Homo sapiens: one gene and its partners. The protein of the gene in region 2 purifies or fractionates together with the protein of the main gene of each other region. This does not show direct contact. Each region holds a gene or a part of one and is shown on either strand. Other genes may lie near its edges.

Evidence for each region.
Region 1: the proteins of DUSP22 (region 2) and POTEF purify together in Homo sapiens (affinity purification with mass spectrometry; 2 studies listed by BioGRID and IntAct, with this or other methods). This does not show direct contact.
Region 3: the proteins of DUSP22 (region 2) and LARS2 purify together in Homo sapiens (affinity purification with mass spectrometry; 2 studies listed by BioGRID and IntAct, with this or other methods). This does not show direct contact.

Annotation. Positions count from the first base shown.
Region 1 is NC_000002.12:130,105,212-130,112,247, forward strand, and holds part of POTEF (POTE ankyrin domain family member F), read right to left. Parts: intron 6,891-7,036; coding exon 6,784-6,890; intron 5,470-6,783; coding exon 5,332-5,469; intron 5,147-5,331; exon of another isoform or gene 4,076-5,146; intron 2,874-4,075; exon of another isoform or gene 2,869-2,873; coding exon 2,798-2,868; intron 2,596-2,797; exon of another isoform or gene 2,376-2,595; intron 1-2,375.
Region 2 is NC_000006.12:288,626-295,499, reverse strand, and holds the start of DUSP22 (dual specificity protein phosphatase 22), read right to left. Parts: upstream 3,014-6,874; 5' UTR 2,961-3,013; coding exon 2,940-2,960; intron 1-2,939. UniProt on the Homo sapiens protein: Dual specificity phosphatase; can dephosphorylate both phosphotyrosine and phosphoserine or phosphothreonine residues. Activates the JNK signaling pathway.
Region 3 is NC_000003.12:45,545,551-45,549,918, forward strand, and holds the end of LARS2 (leucine--tRNA ligase, mitochondrial), read left to right. Parts: intron 1-1,800; coding exon 1,801-1,980; 3' UTR 1,981-3,857; downstream 3,858-4,368.

The DNA of each region.
Region 1 (7,036 bases), on a different chromosome or scaffold from region 2:
CTTTTATTTAAAAAAAAGCCTGCCAACTATTAATGTTATTTCTTACATAAAAAAAATTAAGCAAAACAAATGAAAAAAGCATAACACCAAAAAAACAAAGGCCAACATATTAAAACAAGTAGTTGAGATTCCTAACTTTATGTATTTCACTAAGGACGGGTGAAAACCTTGTAATACATTGATGCTACTCCAAGGATGTATGACAAGGAAACTATAGCTGACTACTGCGAAAACTTCCTTTGTCTCCTGGTTTCTTTACATGGTAAAGAACCTTCCATCAATCCCAGCAAACTATAGGCCACAGGCCAAATCCAATCTGCCTTATGGCTTTGTAAATAAAGTTTTATAGGAGCTCAGTCATGCCTGTTTGCTTACATATAATCATGGTGGCTTTCACACTACAACAGCAGACAACAGCAGGGTTAAGTAGATATGACAGAGACCACATAGTCTAAAATATTGCCCACCTGGCCATTTACAGAAAAAGCTTGCTAACCCGTTTTACACCATAACCAGAATGCCTTAATACTCAAATTTAATCTTGTGACTCCCCTGCTCAAATTTCTCCAATGAGCCCCTGCAGCACACATTGTTGGCTCCCTATCAATAGCCATTCCTTATTCTTTCTTGAAGAAGAAATCCAAGTCTATTGGGATATTTATTATCCCAATCCCCCTCCTCAGCCTCAGAAACAGAAATGTTTATTCTAAGCTAATCAGGTATTTACCTTCCCAGTGCCTGGTTTGGGAATGAGCATGTGGTGTGACCCAGCCAGTGAAATGTTACAGGAAGCCCTTTGCATGCTTCTAAGTTTTCTCCCTGTTTAAAAGACACATGTGAAGAAAAGCAGCCCTTGCGATGTTGTGTTGTGAGAACAAGATGTTTGGAGCTGCTGCGGATTAGCCAACCATGAAAGGAGACGTGAATAAAACACTGTCAACAGCACAGCTGAAAGAGGGAAAAGTGGGATCCTAGGATATCAATGAACAACCAAAACAACTCTGGTTCCTACTGTTTTAGCCACTGTTCATCTAGTATTTGCAGTCCAAAGCATTCTACCCAGTAAATTTCCCATGGCACACAGGATAAGACCTACTCATTTCTATAGTATTAAAAAGTCTATCATAAACTTGCCTTAGCTAAGTATTCACCTCATTCCCAACCTCTCGTATCACACACTTTTGGTACTAGCAAAAGTGAACTGCTCAGAAACCCTGCCATGTTCACTCAAGCATCTTGTCTTTTGCACTTGCTGCTCTTCCTCCCAAACAGGCAATCTCATTAGATGTTCCTTCTGGCAAACACACGACCTCGCTGCATGTTCCTTCTGCCAAACATTCTTCTTCTGCTTCTTTACCTAGAAAAATTCTTCTCTCTCTGCATGCTTACCTTAAATCATACCTACTTTTTCCCAAAACTTTCATTCCTCATCACATATGTCTGGCACATAATCAATATATAATAAATCATAATTATAAGCTTCCAGTGGGCATCTAGCACACAGTAAGCACTGAATAAAGTAGTAAAATAATGAAAATGACAATGATAACAAAAAGCTCCTGTCTGTATTTTTAATTGTTTGTGGTCTATAGCATTAGAAAAATGGTTACTATCTAAAAGACATTTGATAGTTATATGTTAAGTGGACAAGTGAAAACATAAATAGAAATGTTTTCTTTGTAAATTCTGTTGAAAAAGCACAGAAATGAAATGGAGACAGCTCTATTATGAGCACCTTAAAGATCAAAACTACATCTATTCCATCTTTGTCTCCTGCAACTTATAAAACCTAACTTACAAAAGCTCTTTGATAAATAGATGACTAAATTAAAGGTGTCCTCACACAGTTTGGACAATATAATGTATTAGGTGTCCACAACCAGGTAGCATACTAGCATTTTTGTTAGCGTGAAACGTTTTTCTGCTTTTATTATAATCTGCTGAGCCTAGAGTTGGGCAATTTGTATATTTATTATGACAATCTTTTGGCAAATGGTAGCAGAGCATCTTGTTCTAACAAAATTACTGTTATGATGACAATTAACCAGCAGGTAGAAGAACACATCTTGTTCCAACAAAGTAAATATATCTCTTTCCAACTTCAAATGAGGAGGAATGAAGTCAGTAATAGTGAGAACTTATTGGGACAAGCATATGTAACATGACTTGTGCTTCAGTGTTCTTTTGTGATCAAAAATTCCTTACTTTTACTTTTTTATCTATGGTAGGACCACGCAGAGCAGGGGTCCTCAACTCCCAGGCCACAGACTCATACCAGTCCATGGACTATTATGAACCACACCACACAGGAGGAGGTGAGCAGCAGGCAAGCCAGGGAAGCTTCATCTGTATTTACAGCCACTCCTTATGGCTCATATTACAGCCTCTACTCTGCCTCCAGTCAGATCAGTGATAGCATTAGATACTCATTGGAGCATGAACCCTGTTGTGAACTGCCCATCTGAGGGATCTAGGTTGTGTGCTTCGTATGAGAATCTAATGCCTGATGATCTGTCACTGTCTCACTTTGCCCCCAGATGAGACCATCCAGTTGCAGAAAAATAAGTTCAGAGCTTCCACGGATTCTACATTATGGTAAGTTGTATAATTATTTCATTATATATTACAATGTGATAATAATATAAAGTAGCACAATAAATGTAACATGATTGAATAATCCTGAAACCATCCCCACCCTCCCCCAGCCCATGGAAAAATTGTCTTCCACAAAACCGGTCCCTGGTGTCAAAAAGATTGGGGACAACTGACTAAAGTAATTCACTATCACAAGTCTTACCTGGATTGCTGTTTTCAGAAGAGATTTTTAGCATCTGTTTTTCTTTGTAGTCAGAAAGTAACTGGCAAATTCTATGTATAAAAATGTAATAAACCAAATTACTATTTTAATACTGATATAAAAAAACTTACCAAATGTAGAATTATTAAGAGTATTTCAAACAATATCAGAATAACAGAACTTAATAGTATTATCCCACCCACTTGTGAGTACATTCTACAAACTTCTCTTTAAGCTTCTAATTAAAGAAGAAAAAAATGTAAGGTGAAATAGTCATAAATCGAGGGCACTGTGACCCAGTAAATTAGCTAGCATTAGCATGACATAATAGAAAGTGTCCCAACTCTGCATAAGTCCTAGCTCCATAATGAACAGCTATTTGTTCTTGGACAACTTGCTTCTCTTAGGCTCAATGTCTTCTTCAACAAAGTGAGGACTTTGCTGCCTTATTTCACTAGGTTGTTATAAAGATTTAACGAGATAACATTTTTTAAATGCTCAGAGAAATAGTAAAGCAATGGAATAATCTGTTCCTAAACTTTATGACTAAAATTATCTTGGAATCCCAAATAAAACCCAATGCGTATTTTGTTCATAGGTTCTAATATGCAAATGTTGTAGTTTTCAGAAAATGTTATTAAGTCCTAATTTTGCTTCTTAGTTGTCCTACTCTTTATGGCTTATAATTCAGGGCATCTCAACTATGTCATAGTTTATAACTAAATTTATTCATAAATATCTCATTAAAGTAGATAATGTGATTGTCCACTATTACGGAGTTGATCAATCACACCAAGGGCAGAAAAACCAATGGATGTTAAGACCTGACTTGGACCAACGATCCTTCTCTACCGACTCAAACTCTCAGCCAGTAGATGTCTGTTAGGATAATGCTTTATATTGATGTTCAATTCCAGCTGACATGGGAGACCAAAAGTCTACTTTTATTTTTTTTTTAGTTTCCACGGAGAAGTAGCAAGCTGACATTCTGTAATTTTCGACATACATACTAACAATATATTTTGCACGGAACATGTTATTCAGCTCAAAGTCATCTCATAGACCATCTTACATGACTATTTTTGCAGCACAAATCACAATTTCAATATTTGGGTGGCACCCATTTTGCTTTGATTCACACTATTTCCTCAGAGCTAGTCAGCAAAAATAGTCAAATGACCTTCCAGTGACTGCACAAAATATGGAATGCTTCAAAGATCTGTCCTGCCTCCTTATGCAGAAGCCACGCTAACTTTCCCCGTATTGTTCCAATTTTAGGATATGTGCCGCCGAAGCAAGCACAAAGCCCTACTTTTACATATGATTAGTGATGCGTCATGGACAAGGCTTGGCTCTGTGAAGTCCAACTAACCTACTTGAGATTCTGAGAATTCTCTTCAATGGCTTCCTGTGAGCTAGAGTTTGAAAATATCTTAAAATCTTGAGCTAGAGATGGAAGTAGCTCCGATAATTTTCATTATCATGTAAATCAGATCACTCAAGGGGCCAACCACAGCTGGGAGCCACTGCTCAGGGCAAGGTTCATACGGGACTTTCTACTGCCCAAGGTTCTATACAGGATATAAAGGTGCCTCACAGTACAGATCTGGTAGCAAAGAGGAAACAGACACTGACCTCCTTCTGCCACATTATTTGAACCCCTCTCACCCTTTAGAACAAGCCCACCTAACATCTGCCAGAGAAAAGACCAACAACAGCCTCAAAGGATCTCTTACCATGAAGGTCTCAGCTAATTCCTGGCTAAGATGTGGGTTCCACATTAGGTTCTGAATATGCGGGGAAGGGTCAATTTGGTCACTTTGTGTGCGGATAAAGTCAGGATGCCCAGCGGCCAGAGCAGGGGGCTGGTGCTCTGGGAACAATGGCTGAGCATATAAGCATAGGTATGGGAATTAAAAAACATCAAAGTCACTGTATGAATCGCCATGAAGACTTGAGGGATCTGAATCTACTGATTCATCTTAAGGCAGCAGGACCAGTTTGAGTGGCCACAAAGCAGCAACAGAATCAACGGAAACAACAGAATGATTGCAATGTCTTTTTTCCTCCTCCTTCTGACTTGATAAAAGGGACTGTCTTCCTTGGATTTAGTGAACTCCTTCGGTTCTTGAAAAATTCAAGGAGTATGTAGGACATAGTCCCCAGAAGACAGTACAAGACTTTCCGCTAAACTGGACATTTCAAGACCCAAATAACTAATCAGAAAAATTAAAGATGTGACACTATTTTTTATCCCTGCATAGGTGTTACACTTGGATCAAATGAACAATGCTGGGATCTCTAAGGATAAAGATCTTAAAAGTCCTGAGATAAAGAATCCCGCACCCATTGGTACTTCTAACTTGTCTTGCTTTTTGTCTGATTTCTGGCTGATGCAGGGGACTAAAACTCACTGCCACGCGAAAACTACCTGAACCAAACTATGACATCTCACCTGATATGTGAGATGCAACTGTTATAATTATTTTAAACCTCAATTCAGCATTAACTAGCCTTTTAATGTAAACACTTACACATGATGATGACTAGAAACAGCATACTCTCTGGCCGTCTGTCCAGATAGATCTTGAGAAGATACATCAATATTTTGCTCAAGTAGAAGGCTGACTATACTTGCTGATCCACAACATACAGCAAGTATGAGAGCAGTTCTAAAATGACAGAGATAGGAACTGTAATAAAGTTATTTTTAAAGCTAATTTGATATACTTTACCAATGTAACATCTTGCCTGTCTGTGCAGAATCAAACATTTACATGCACTAAAAGACATAAGCAACCTGAGTGCTCAAGTGTTCATCTTTGTAAAATGCCACCAAGGTTAAAAGGAAGGGACCAAAAAAAACCCTCTTATCTCAGTGGGGTATTGCATAGCAGAAGCTACTAATTTAAAGTCCTTTGATGGGCAAGAAACAATGTTAGGGCCACTTATCTGAGGTGGACAAAGATTTAAGTGAAGATTTTGTCACAGCTTCCCTAGACTGACATGCTGTAATAGAAAATCAGCTAGGGGGTAAGAGAAATAAGAGCTCTCTGCATGCTCAAAGCAGTAATAATAATGGTAAGAATAGTAGTCATAGGAGTTTCAGTTAATGGTGCCAATAACCATGTGCTAGGCACTGAATTAAATGCCACATATATCTTTCTTACTTATGCACAGCCAACTTTGAAGGATATATTCTCCTACTTTTCATATATGACAACATATTTGGTGGTAAATAACGTCCCCAAGGTCACACACCTAGCAAGTAAGAAAGTTACTAATTAAACCCAGTCTTGTGTGAATCCAAAGCCTAGCTCTTTTCTCTTTATCACCCACGTACGGCTTGTCTTCATTAAAGGAAAAGTGTATCCACTTAAAACTATCTTCACTCCCTCTCTCCATACCAATTAAAAATAAAAACATCAAAATACACTGGAAAAACAAAAGGAAAAAAGCTGTTGAACCCACAGTATGTGGGAACAGCAATTAATTGTTATGTAGGGATAAGCTAACACTAATATTCTTCAAAGAAAGCAACTTAAAGCAAAGTCATTAAAAAGACAAAAGGATTTTCAACCCCTATTTATGTTTAATACAGCATATTTAATGGAAAAGCATGTAAGACACAGGTTAAAAACTATTAGAAAGGGTTAAGAAGTTCAATACTGAGTCATAAAGTAAACTAAAAGTTAAAGTTCAAACTTCATAAAATTAATATGAAATCCTTTAAGCTAACATAAGATCATGTAACCAAAAATGTCACATAACAAATAACATCAGTCAATATAATAAGAGAAGATGAATCCTACTAAAACTGTTCTTTATGTTGCCCAGCCCAAGTAATTGTTTTTCTACCTAACTGATTTGTGTTGATACTGATCACTACATCCCAGTAAGTATACATTAATCTTATTAATTTAATATTTATGACTTGAGTGACTGCTGTCCATCTACAACACACAGATTAAAAGAAAGAACTATACCTTCCATATCTATCCAGTGCATTTAAATTCGCTTTTTTCTTAATTAAAAATTTCACGACTTGCTGTTTTTGCTCATGTACACCAAGTAACAGTGGTGTGAGGCCATGCTGTAAAACAATATAAAGCAAAAACCTATGTAATTCAAAAAAGTACATATTCCTCAACCGAAGTGGAAACTTTATATAAGATCTTATGGACTTACACGCATAGAAGTAAATAAAATGTAGTCACTTCCTTCTCACTCTTCTGTGCT
Region 2 (6,874 bases):
CCCAGTCCTGTCTTTATTTCCTCATCTTTAATTTTCTAGAATATAAAAGCCTTTTTCCCCTCCATCTTCTGTATAATCTGCTGCGTACACCTAACGGAAACGGGCACAATATTCCGCCGTACAGGAGCCCGGAACGGACCGACAAGAAGAGCCACCACAGGGATGTGAATGATAAAAACTGCTGTCCCAAAGCACTCAGAATGCAGCGTGCACTGTTTAGACCAGAAATGCTCTTTTGCCAAAAATGACCAATGTGTACGAGATTGGAAAGAAATCTTGTCCCAGTAACCTCAGGGCACACACATTCCAAGTTATGTTAGTTCCAAAGACATTGCACATATTTATAAATGTTCTTAGAAAAGGATTTCTAGGGGTAGCACCTTCCGCTGATTCTGCAAATCAACCATTCTTCTTTTTTTACAGATGAAGCCTCGTTCCAAGTCACACAGTAATATATGGAAAAGTTCTAGTTAAGGTTCTTAAGTTACTGGCCTCCTGCGATCTACTTTGCCACTAATGAACCTTGTGATTTGGGGTAGTTCCTCCTGATCTCACGTTAAACATGTTTACTGCAGCAGGATTCCTTGCCTGGGCTGAATGCCCCTTCTAGGTCACTTTCATCCCATCTTCTGCTTTCCCCACTTTTCTGAAATTGCCTATTTTATCCTCTGGAGCCTCTACTCCTCCCTACCTTGTGTTTGTTCTCTCTCTCACCCCCACACACATACACACCCTGTGTTGTGCAACACAGCAGCCATTAGCCACAGTGACTATCGAGTACTCCAAATGTGGCTAGTCCAAAATGAGATGTGATTTAGGCATAAAATACACACTAGACTTTGAAGGTTAAGTGATCTGGGGGTCCCGAGATTTTTCCTTTCACAAAGACATAGTAAAAAACATGGAATCTTCCATGAATAACTTTATATATTGGTTACATGTTGAAACAATAGTTTTAATATATTGTTAAATAAAATATATTATTAAAATTAATTTCACCGGTTTATTTTTTAATGTGGCTACCGGAACATTTTAAGTTACATATATAGCTCGCATCATATTAGTGCTGGACAATGCTGACCTGTACTGAAGGTTCTGTGAAGAATCTTTGGGTCATTTACCACTGTACTCCCTTTGCCCCCTCCCCACCCACTAGCACAACACCTGGCTCATAGTATGTACATAATCAATAAGTGTTGAAGCAGGGAAGTCTCTAAATCTCTCTATACATGTATTTCTTCATTGATACACTGTGAGTCTCTATTCACAAGATAATAAAAGTCAAGAAATTTATTACCCATTTTGAAAGGTAAAAAGTATATGAATATTACTGCTTTTGTTGAAAAGCATGAAAATAACGTTGATCCCTTAGGCAACCATCTGTATTCCTAAATATATTTTTTGAATTGTATTACACAAATACTATAAATTAAATGCTGAAAACGGTGGAGAGTGAACAGCTCAAGTGGGAAAACTAGAAACAGCCAAAGGAAAGCTGAGATACCACCACCAATGGGAAGGCAAACGGAGCCCACAGACTTATGATGACCATCTTTATTGTTCTGTTTTAATTTAAAAAGCAGAAGGCTCGTGGTGCTGATGGATTCCAGTGCTCATCGGAATATAATACAAGTATTTATCCAAGAGAGAGACAGTCTGTTTCCAAACTTGATCACTCGCCAAAAAAAAAAAAAAAAAAAAAGTGAATACAATTCTCTTTACCAAAATACCCCAGTATTGATATGCAGGTCCCAAACACACAATAGTTCTTTCACAAACTGGGTAACCAGGACACAATAAACACGACATGCGCACGTGAAAAGTTAGCTAGGTTTTCCCTGCCCTACCGTGAATCCGCATTTGCAACACTCCAGCCCCAACACCCAAACCACTGCTGACCCAGTGCTGAGGGACATGAAAAAAAACACAGCCACATTGCCATCCCCACCCAGTGTGGAAGCTGACGGCATGTAGAGATGTGGGTGGGTGGAGCGCAATGAAAAAGTGAAGCAGAAAGACGACTCATCTAATCCAGGACCATTCAAAGACCCGTAAAAAGGTACTTGTCTTTGTTGCGGGCTTTGTAAAGTCTTGTCAATCCTTCCTCGAAACCAGCCAAGTACCAAGTAACAAAATCCTTAACCCTGTGGTTCACATGAATACACCCCGGCAACTCTCAGCTGCCAGAGCTGGAATCTGGCAACTTCCCTGGACGGGAAAGGCTAGCCCACCGCCCGGGAAGTGAGGTGCGGGCAACAAAAGAACACAGGGTGGGGCCCAGAAACGGACGGGACAAATGGAGCAACACAGATTTTCCAGAAGGCCTCATCAGCGCAAGCAGCCAGCAACAGGTTGCCCTTGTTGCAGAAGTCACATAACCTAATCAACTCTGAATCTTTTCTCTCCTCCCCACTATCTAGAAACAGCTCAGGACTTAGGACTCTGTTAACTTCTCTGTCCACAAGAAAAACTTCTCTGTGCTCACAGGCACACACACAGAATCTGAGGAGAAAGAGGAAATTACAGAGGACACCCGTTTACTAATGATGTGGGGGGGGCGGTGGTGGCTTCAAGAGCGTAGTTTGGGAGCGAAGAGGAGGGCAAAAAAGAAGCCACATCCATTCGGAGCTCAGCTGACCTCTCGGCAGAACAAGTGTCAACGCTTTCAAAGGGCGCGGCTTGTTTCAGCCACGAAAACGCACCGGCTGGCAAGGCAGGCGGCTGGGGGCTGCCTACCCGGAAGCCGGGTGGGGTGGGGGCGGGAACACCTCCGAACCCCGACTCCGCGGTCGCCGCCCAGGCGCGCCGCCCCTCCCTCCGCGCCCGTCCCCACCGCGGGAAAGGGCACCCCGGGCTCGAGTCGTCGGGCAGCCGACGCCGGCGAGACGGCAGGGCGTCGGAGCGGAGGCAAACCCAGCGCGAACGAGGGAAGACGTTACCTTGTTCATCCCATTCCCCATGGTGGCTGAAGGCGAACGCTAGCGCCCCGGCCGTGTGGTCGCAGGCGCACTATGGCATGTTACAGGGAGGAGGAGCGGCGGGGCGGGCGGGGAGGAGGCGCGCGGGAGGGACTGAGTGCTCGCAGTGTCAACAAGTCAGCGGCAGGGACCGGCCGGGCAACCCAGGGCGCTCCAGAGACCCGGCGTGGAGGGCAGGGCTTTCTGTGCGGCGGCCTAGAACTTCCCGGCGGGAGCCGGGCAGGGGCACCGGAGCCTATGCCGGGAAATGGTCCCGCCTTGCCGGTCCCCGCCCCCGTGCGCACCGGGCAGGCCCAGCGTCCCTCCTCGCTCCGCCCGCCCGCACCCTGGGATTCGTAGTCGGGTTCCTGGCTGCCGCGCCCCACTCCGCCCTCGCGGACCCCGGCTCGCGGCCGCCGGGCGTGGGAGGCACTAGGCTCGGGCTCCCAGGCGGCCGGCCCCGGAGGCCAGAGCGCGTGCGCGGCCCGAGCCGCCCCGCCGGGACACCCGAGGCTGCGCGGCGGGGCCTGGCGGACGCGCAGGCGCTGCCCTGACCGGGCGGCTGCGCTCGTCTCGGAGCCCGCTCCCCGGCCGGGGGTCTCCAGATCCCCCTTTGGCCTTTTCCCCTGGGGCGACTCCGGGGGCCAGTTACCAGCAGTCGCTACCCAGCCTTGGCTGCCTCCGTGAATCAGGTGCTAATCAGAGGCCTGGTCTCTGGGGGCTCCCCTGCCTGGGTTTTCTGAGTGCGGCAGATTTAGGCTGGGGGATTTCCTGCGGCCCTGCCCCATGCACCAAGACCGAGAAGCCTCGCCTGGTGGGGAGAGGTGGGCTACGTGACTCACCCCGGGGAGGCCCGACCTCCCTACCCTGGGGGAGCAGATGGCTGGATCTCTGACCTCAGACCTCACGGCCTTAGATGATGTGTGTCCCTTAATGTCTGCATTGTGGTTCTGTCTGGAATGGATCAATTTCTAAACTGTAGCAGAATTGTTTTGGGTGTTCTATCAACGTTATTAAACTCTGAAGTTTCTCTCCAGCGACAGAATCCTTGAGCCAGTGGTTTTTCTTCTTAATTTATGTATCCTCAACAATGTCCTGAACATAGTAGGTGCTTAATAAATATTTGCTGAATGAGTACATGCGTCAATCTGACGTGCCCTGGCTCACCCCTGCTGACTTCATTTTATCTTCTTGCTAAGCGAGTTACACACATGCTGGTCTCCTGTCTGTTCCTTGAGCCTGTCAGGCTTGCTGGGCTGTGCTCTCTATCCAGACACCTGGATCCCCAGCTCTCTGCATACCTGCCTGTTATCGCTGAGGTATCAGCCCAAATGCCATCTCTCCTAAGAGGCTTTTCCTAACCACCCAATTCCAGGTTGGTCCTCCAGTCACTATCATATTACTCCGTATTATTGATCGGAAATACATGTATTTGCTTTCTTTTTATCTGTCTCACTAGCCAGCAACTTTCAGATTAAAAAAAAAAAAAAAGTTGTCTTATTCAGTAATACAGCCATGTGGCCTGGGACAAAATCTAGCACAAAATAGTGATTTTTAAAATATTTGTCAAATAAATTAATAATTTCTTGTGGCCGAGAAAACGGGTGAGGTTCTGAGGAATGTGAACGTTTGGAAAGAGCTTGTAGACTCCATCTGTCGCCATTTCTGTACTTGTACCCCATATCTTCTGGGCAACAAATGGTATCAAAACCCCCCGTGTAGAAAGCCCTCAATCAATATGCGCTTGCATGTTTTCTCTAGGTAGAATGGGACCCAGACCCGGAGTGCCCTTTCTGCCTCTTGTTTTGGGAGAGTGTTCCTTCTTCACTGCCTTCACTTCCTCTTCTCCCGCCTGCTTCTCAGTCACCTGGACAGCCTGCCCTTTCCCCTCTGCCACACACTGCCATTAAGTAACTGTTTTTACCACCTTCCTGCTTAGAGACAACACAGAATCGTTAGTGGACTGCCTGGGGAATCCCAGTAATCAGCCTCTATTTCTAATTCTTAAGGAGGTCTTGAGCAAGATGATCAACTTTTCTGAGCTAGCTTTTTTTTTCTCTTTAAAACAAGAGCATTAAACTGTGAATTTTTGAAGCTTCTATCCAGCAACCAATGAATTACTTCTGCAGCCTTCTGCCCTCCTTGGGCCATTCATCCAACAGTCAGATGAACGTTTAAGAACACAACCAGTTCATAAACTGGTACTTGACCATGAATGACAAATTCATACTGATTTTTTTCTTCTGTCATCCACTTGCAATATTTCTCTCTTATTCATACTCTTCTTGTAGATATATTTCTCCAGCTTGGACCATCTGCTTTTCCCCCTAAACTCAGAACCTGCCATGGCTTCCTCCTTACCGTCAAAATCAGCATTCAGTATGGCCTAAAAGGTCCACATGCCCAGAGTTCCTATCAAAATCTCAAATTTTTCTTTTGGGTTAAATAGGAAAAGAGGAGACTATTAACACCAGAAGTCAGAAGAGTAAGATTTAAAAAAAAAAAAATTATTGGTTTTGGCTGGGCGTGGTGGCTCAAGCCTGTAATCCCAGCACTTTGGGAGGCCGAGGCGGGCCGATCACCTAAGGTCAGGAGTTCTCGACCAGCCTGGCCAACATGGCAAAATCCCGTCTCTACTGAAAATACAAACATTAGCCGGGCGTGGTGGCGTGTGCCTGTAATCCCAGCTACCCGGGAGGCTGAGGCAGGAGAATCGCTGGAACCCAGGAGGCAGAGGCTGCAGTGAGCCAAGATTGTGCCACTGCACTTCTGCCTGGGCAACAGAGCAAGACTCCGTCTCAAAAAAAAAAAAATTATTGATTCTGTGGGGTTGGGGGGTTTCCCACAAGAGACTTGCTGTACTCTCCTCCACCCTAACCCTGAACACCTCTCTTTATTACAATAATAATTCCCAGTTGTTCATGTCTTGCAGTTCTATGACTTTTACTCTCTAGCTCTTGATTATGGAAAGAAAGGAAGAAGGGAAACACTTCAACAAAGCTGGCGTATTTCACATCCATAGTAGAATCTCTATTCATTTGTGCTTTATCTCACTCATAAAAATTTTAAGGCATCACAAGCCTGGTGGATTTTCACACTATGTAAGATTTTTACTTCCACTTTTCTTCTTGTTATTTTCTTCCTCTCAGTTCTGCCAACATCACAAATTTTGGCAACAACTCCGAAAGAAGTCAAGCCTTCATGTGTGCACAATAAGGAATGGTCTACAGAGTGTGTAGGATAGCTGAGTCCATACTTACACATGGTTAAGGATAACTGGTTAATAGTGTATTTAGTGAGCAGTAACCTTAAACTTTAAGGTGGCGGTGTTTAAAAGCCCGCAAGCAGAAGCTCAACCATTAGAGTTAGCCAAATCATTATAGGTGTTAGTGATAATTTCAGAGCATCAAGATTAACCTCTATCCAACAGAGAAGTAATTATGTAATCTTCACTGGCCTCTTGAACATATTGCAGTCCAGGGTTTCTCAACCTCGGCAAAACTGACATTTGAGGCTGGATACATTTTTGCTCTAGAAGGCTGTCCTGTGCACTGCAGAATGTTCAGAAGCATCTCTGACTTGTGCTCATTACATTTCAGTAGCACCCTCTCAGTCATGACAATCAGAAATGTCTCCAACCCCCTCTCCTCAATAACCAGCTAAATCTACACTAATAGATCATGTTAGTTCTCTGCAGAATTCTTAAGCCACAATTGTTCATTATTAACAAATTGAGAACAAGAAGTTAAAATGAAGATCTAATCTAGCCAAAGCCTGACTAAAAGTAAAAGAAAGTGAGAATCTAATGAATTGTGGAAAGAAGAAAAAAGGTGGAACCTGGAACTACGGAAGCAAAAGCACAAAACATTTTCTCTGTTTCTCCAGCATTGTCCAGAGAGAGGCTGCCCAGTTGAATA
Region 3 (4,368 bases), on a different chromosome or scaffold from region 2:
CTGAAGGGACTGCCTTGGTAAGGCAACTCAGGGGAGGCCTGGGGAGCCAGAACCGTGTGAGGGTGCCCGAGGCAGCAAGGGAAAGACTCAGAGCACGATGGCCACATTCAGAGATCACATGCCCTGCCCCCAAAGCCCCAGCTGTGGACAAGAATGACTCAGGTCCCTTGGACAGGCTGTCACCAGTGATGACTTAGGACCAGCCTGCCCGGCTCCAGCAAAGCACAGGAAGCTCGAAGGTTTAGAAATGGGTCATTGTTGTGCTGAGGCCATGCGTCAAAGAGGACATCCCACAGCCAGCTCCTATCCTGGCCAGCACTCTTGACAAAGGCAGAGGGAGTGCAGCTTAGTGAGCTGGTCCCTTTACACAGGTTATTCACTCCAGAATCTGGAGAATTCTGTCCTTAAGGAAAAAAAAAAAAAAAACTAAGCTCAAGATCCCACAGCTTGTAAGACCAGGCCTAAGAGTCAAACCTGAATCTCCCCACATGAGAGCACCATGCTCCCCCTCACCCAGCACCCCCTCTGTAGGTGGTGGCCCAGAGGAGATGTTGCCCTGGGCTGCTCTTCCATAGGAGGAAAGACATGATTCACTAATAACTGCATGTCCTGAGAATTCCCTGTTGGGGACCCCAGGACTTCACTAGGGGCATGGCTCTTGGGTGACAGTTGGGAGGTCTCTTCCAGGGTCTCAGTCCAGCCAAGCATGTGGCCTTGCAAGAAGGCAGCTTCTAATGGCTCAGAAACACCAGGGCAGGGGGGCCACAGTCCTTCACACCACACACTTAGTTCCCCAGCTTCAGAACGCTTTAAAACGCTGCAGCATGGAGCCTCACGCTTTCAAAACAGTATTTCATAATATGCCAGGACTTTGTGTTTTATTCGTCCTCTCCCTGTGACCTAGGCTAATGCAGACAATAAAAATGCCACCAAGTTCTGCAAAACTGAAAAAATGAAGTGGGTGATTAGGGGACATTTGATAATGTGCTTTGGTTGAAACTTGAGAAATTATTCCTAGTAACTTTTCCTAAGACTGTGACTATATTTTCCAAGTGAAAAATAAGAGCTAGTGAAAGTAATGTGTGTGTAGATTTCGGAGCAATGGGATTGAGGATTTGGAAGCATGACTTCAGAAACTGAGCCACGTGGTCACCTTCCCTCATTGAATCAATATTCGGTGAATACCCACCTGTGTCTGGAACTGTACTGACCCATGTTAAGCGAGAAAGAGTGATTAATGTGACAAGATGTGGCTCCAATTTCTAAGTCCTCACACTAGAGCGCCCCCTTCTGGAGCCAGTCAGCAGAGAGAGAAGTTTGACTGTGTCCCCCTTGAAACCGTCAACTGTTTGGTCCACTTGAGACCTAGGTAAAATCTGAGGGGACAGCTCACTCTAACCTGGATCTGAACTTAAACTTGAGCCCCGATGACAGAATAATCCCTTTCTGCCTGGAAATGGCCCAAGCCATCTCATGCTGAGGCTTTTTGACATAATCTCTACCACAGCTGTGTATGGGAGCAGTGCTCAGAAAATGCAAGGCGGTCCTCACTCCACGTACGGGCACTCACATGCAGTCTCAGTGTCGGTCTCTTTCTGCAGGTCTAGGCATTAATCCTATTCAGCTGGTTGCATTTTACCCTTATGGGAAGCAGAGTGCTGACTTCCTCCTTTCTCCACCTCTATTCCTTTCCCCTAAACAAATGCAGCCATGCCCTTTACAGGCAGGAGGTTTGGTATTGGGCCGCCTGCCACTCTGAGGATGTTCCTCATTGTTTATCTTGGCTTTTCTCCTTCTCAGATCAACAATAAAGCTTGTGGCAAAATTCCTGTGCCCCAACAAGTTGCCCGGGACCAGGACAAAGTCCACGAATTTGTTCTTCAAAGCGAGCTGGGTGTCAGGCTTTTGCAAGGACGAAGCATCAAGAAGTCCTTCCTTTCCCCGAGAACTGCCCTCATCAACTTCCTGGTGCAAGATTGACAGCCAGGAGGCTGCAGCTACCACGAGGGCCTCTGAGGAACCTCCTTCCAGGCCTGGGATGAGGGGGCGATGTCTGCTGGCCCAGGGGAAGGGAAAAGACAAATGTCTTGACTGTTGACCTCGGTCCTGTGGCAGACTGCAGTCAACAGTGTGCCTCTGTAGTGTGGCCTGGTGCTGGGGTGAAGGTGAGCTGGGCAAAGGAGAAATATGAGCTACTGAGGAGGGGGTTGGACATCCTGCCCCTCACCCCCCACCCACACTGCAGGTAGAGGAGGCCATCTGATCCCATGGGAAGCCATCAGAGACACTGCTGGTGGGAGCAGGAAGGAGCAGTGCCCCTCGAGCAGCCAGGAAGCCTGCGGATCTGGGAAATGGCTCTGCCTTAGGCACTTCTCGGGAATTTGAGGCCAGCCTGAGGAACTGCAGGACTCAGGTGCAATGTGCCAGCCACTTGGAACTGCTAACTGAGCCTCCAGATGGTAGTGAATGGTCTCTTTGCCTTCAGGCTGGATGAGGAAGTCATTTAGGAAATGTTCAAATAACCAATATGTGGAAATGGACACAGGGATCTTCTGAAGTTGCTTTGAATCAAAAGGCAGGCAGTGCTGGTTCCTCTGCCTGTGTCCCCACCACTCCCCAGCTCTGTCATGCAGGCCTGTCCTCCCCAACCCCAGCTGGATGTGCCTCCCAGGCCTGCTGTGGTTCTGACACACAGGATCCCAGGCAAGGCACCACTTCCTCACATGAATGAGGAGCAGCAAGTCATAACCACTCCCTTGGGTATACAATTTGCTGTGTAGTGAAGTGGAACCAGGCTCAGGCTGCTGGTCCCAACCTCAGAGCCCCACCGCAGCCCAGTAGGGATGCAGCACGCCCCAGAGGGCTCATGTGGGCCCCAGATGGCAATGCCACCATTGTTGATGTGACTCCAGAGCCAGTTATTAGGAAGAGCAAGCTCACCACAGAGGAGTGGAACTGAGGCCCCCCAGATGTTGCCTCCGGTGTCCAAGCCACAGCGGTCTGGCTGTTGGGAAGATGGCCAGGAATGGACTCATACCATTGGCACATTAGGCTAATCCTGGTTTTATGTGAAGTCAGCAATTAAGTGTTCCCACTAGAACTGACCTAAGCCACTGATTAATATTTAATGAGGGAAGGTAGGGGAGAATCTAGCCATTTTATAATGCCAGAAATCTATATATGTTATCTGATGCCATTTTTCTGAAGTAGCCTCACATGTGGTCCCCCTGCAGTTCAGCAGTTAACAGATGACTTTTTTAGTGTAATAAAATGTTTATCATCTATGACTTCAGGACATATGTGTGATCCTGGAATACACCATATTCCAATTTCAGAGTTAATTACAAACAGATTGAGGTATTCCATCATCATCGGAAGCATTGGCTGTGTGTCTGACTCCACATGGAATGCTATAAAGTGGGATACATGTGGTTCTTCTTGTTCCAGAACTTACAGTCCATGGTAGACAACACTGATACAGGCAAACTAGCAACAGCAATTAAGTCACTGGTTCTCAGACTTAATACTCTGCCTGGTCCTCATGCCCAGATATTCCAATTTAATTGGTCCATGGTGTGGCTTGAACACCAGGAATCTTTAAAACTCCACAAGTGATTCTAATGGGCAGCAAAGTTTGAGAATCACTGGACACATTGATGCACTTGAGCCATCATTTCTATCTAGTTCTTCCTCTTCCTAATCTTCAGGTTAGCGGGGATAAGTTTGGTCCAGGACCAAGAGTTGGACCAAAAGGGAAGACAGGGGCCAGAAGTCTAGAGTGCTAGAGCCGACTTGAATGTACTCAGTCTCATTGCACATGGCAGTGAATATGGATTAAATATAAGCCCATGAAAATATTTGGTACAAGGAAGGAGTGAGTGATTTTGATTATCTTGTTATTTCCTAGTAAGCTAAGTGGTCTTGAACAAGATGAGGGAAGGGAGCCCTTTATTTGCATGTGATCTGACCAGAGCAATGGGCCAGTAAAGCCTCAAGGCTGCTAGACTGACCAGCTGGCTGACACCAGCATGGCTCTGAAGAAATTGCTCCAAGAGGATAAAGCTTTTGCAAACAAGAGCTCATCAGTACATACTAAGAGACAGTATGGGTAATGGAACAACTGGACAGAAAACTCTGACCCCTGGGAGTGAGGTGGTGGGGAATAATCTCAGCCATTTATTGACTGTCTTGTTGAGGTCAGAAACTGGACTCAGCAGGTTCACAATAATTATCTTATTTAATTCCCACAAAAACTCTAGAGGGAAGGAATTATTCTCTCATAAAAGAAGAAACCCAGGCTCTGAGGTTCAATAATTGTCTCAGTTTTCACAGCTAATAAGTAGGAGAACTGGGATCCAAGCCCACATC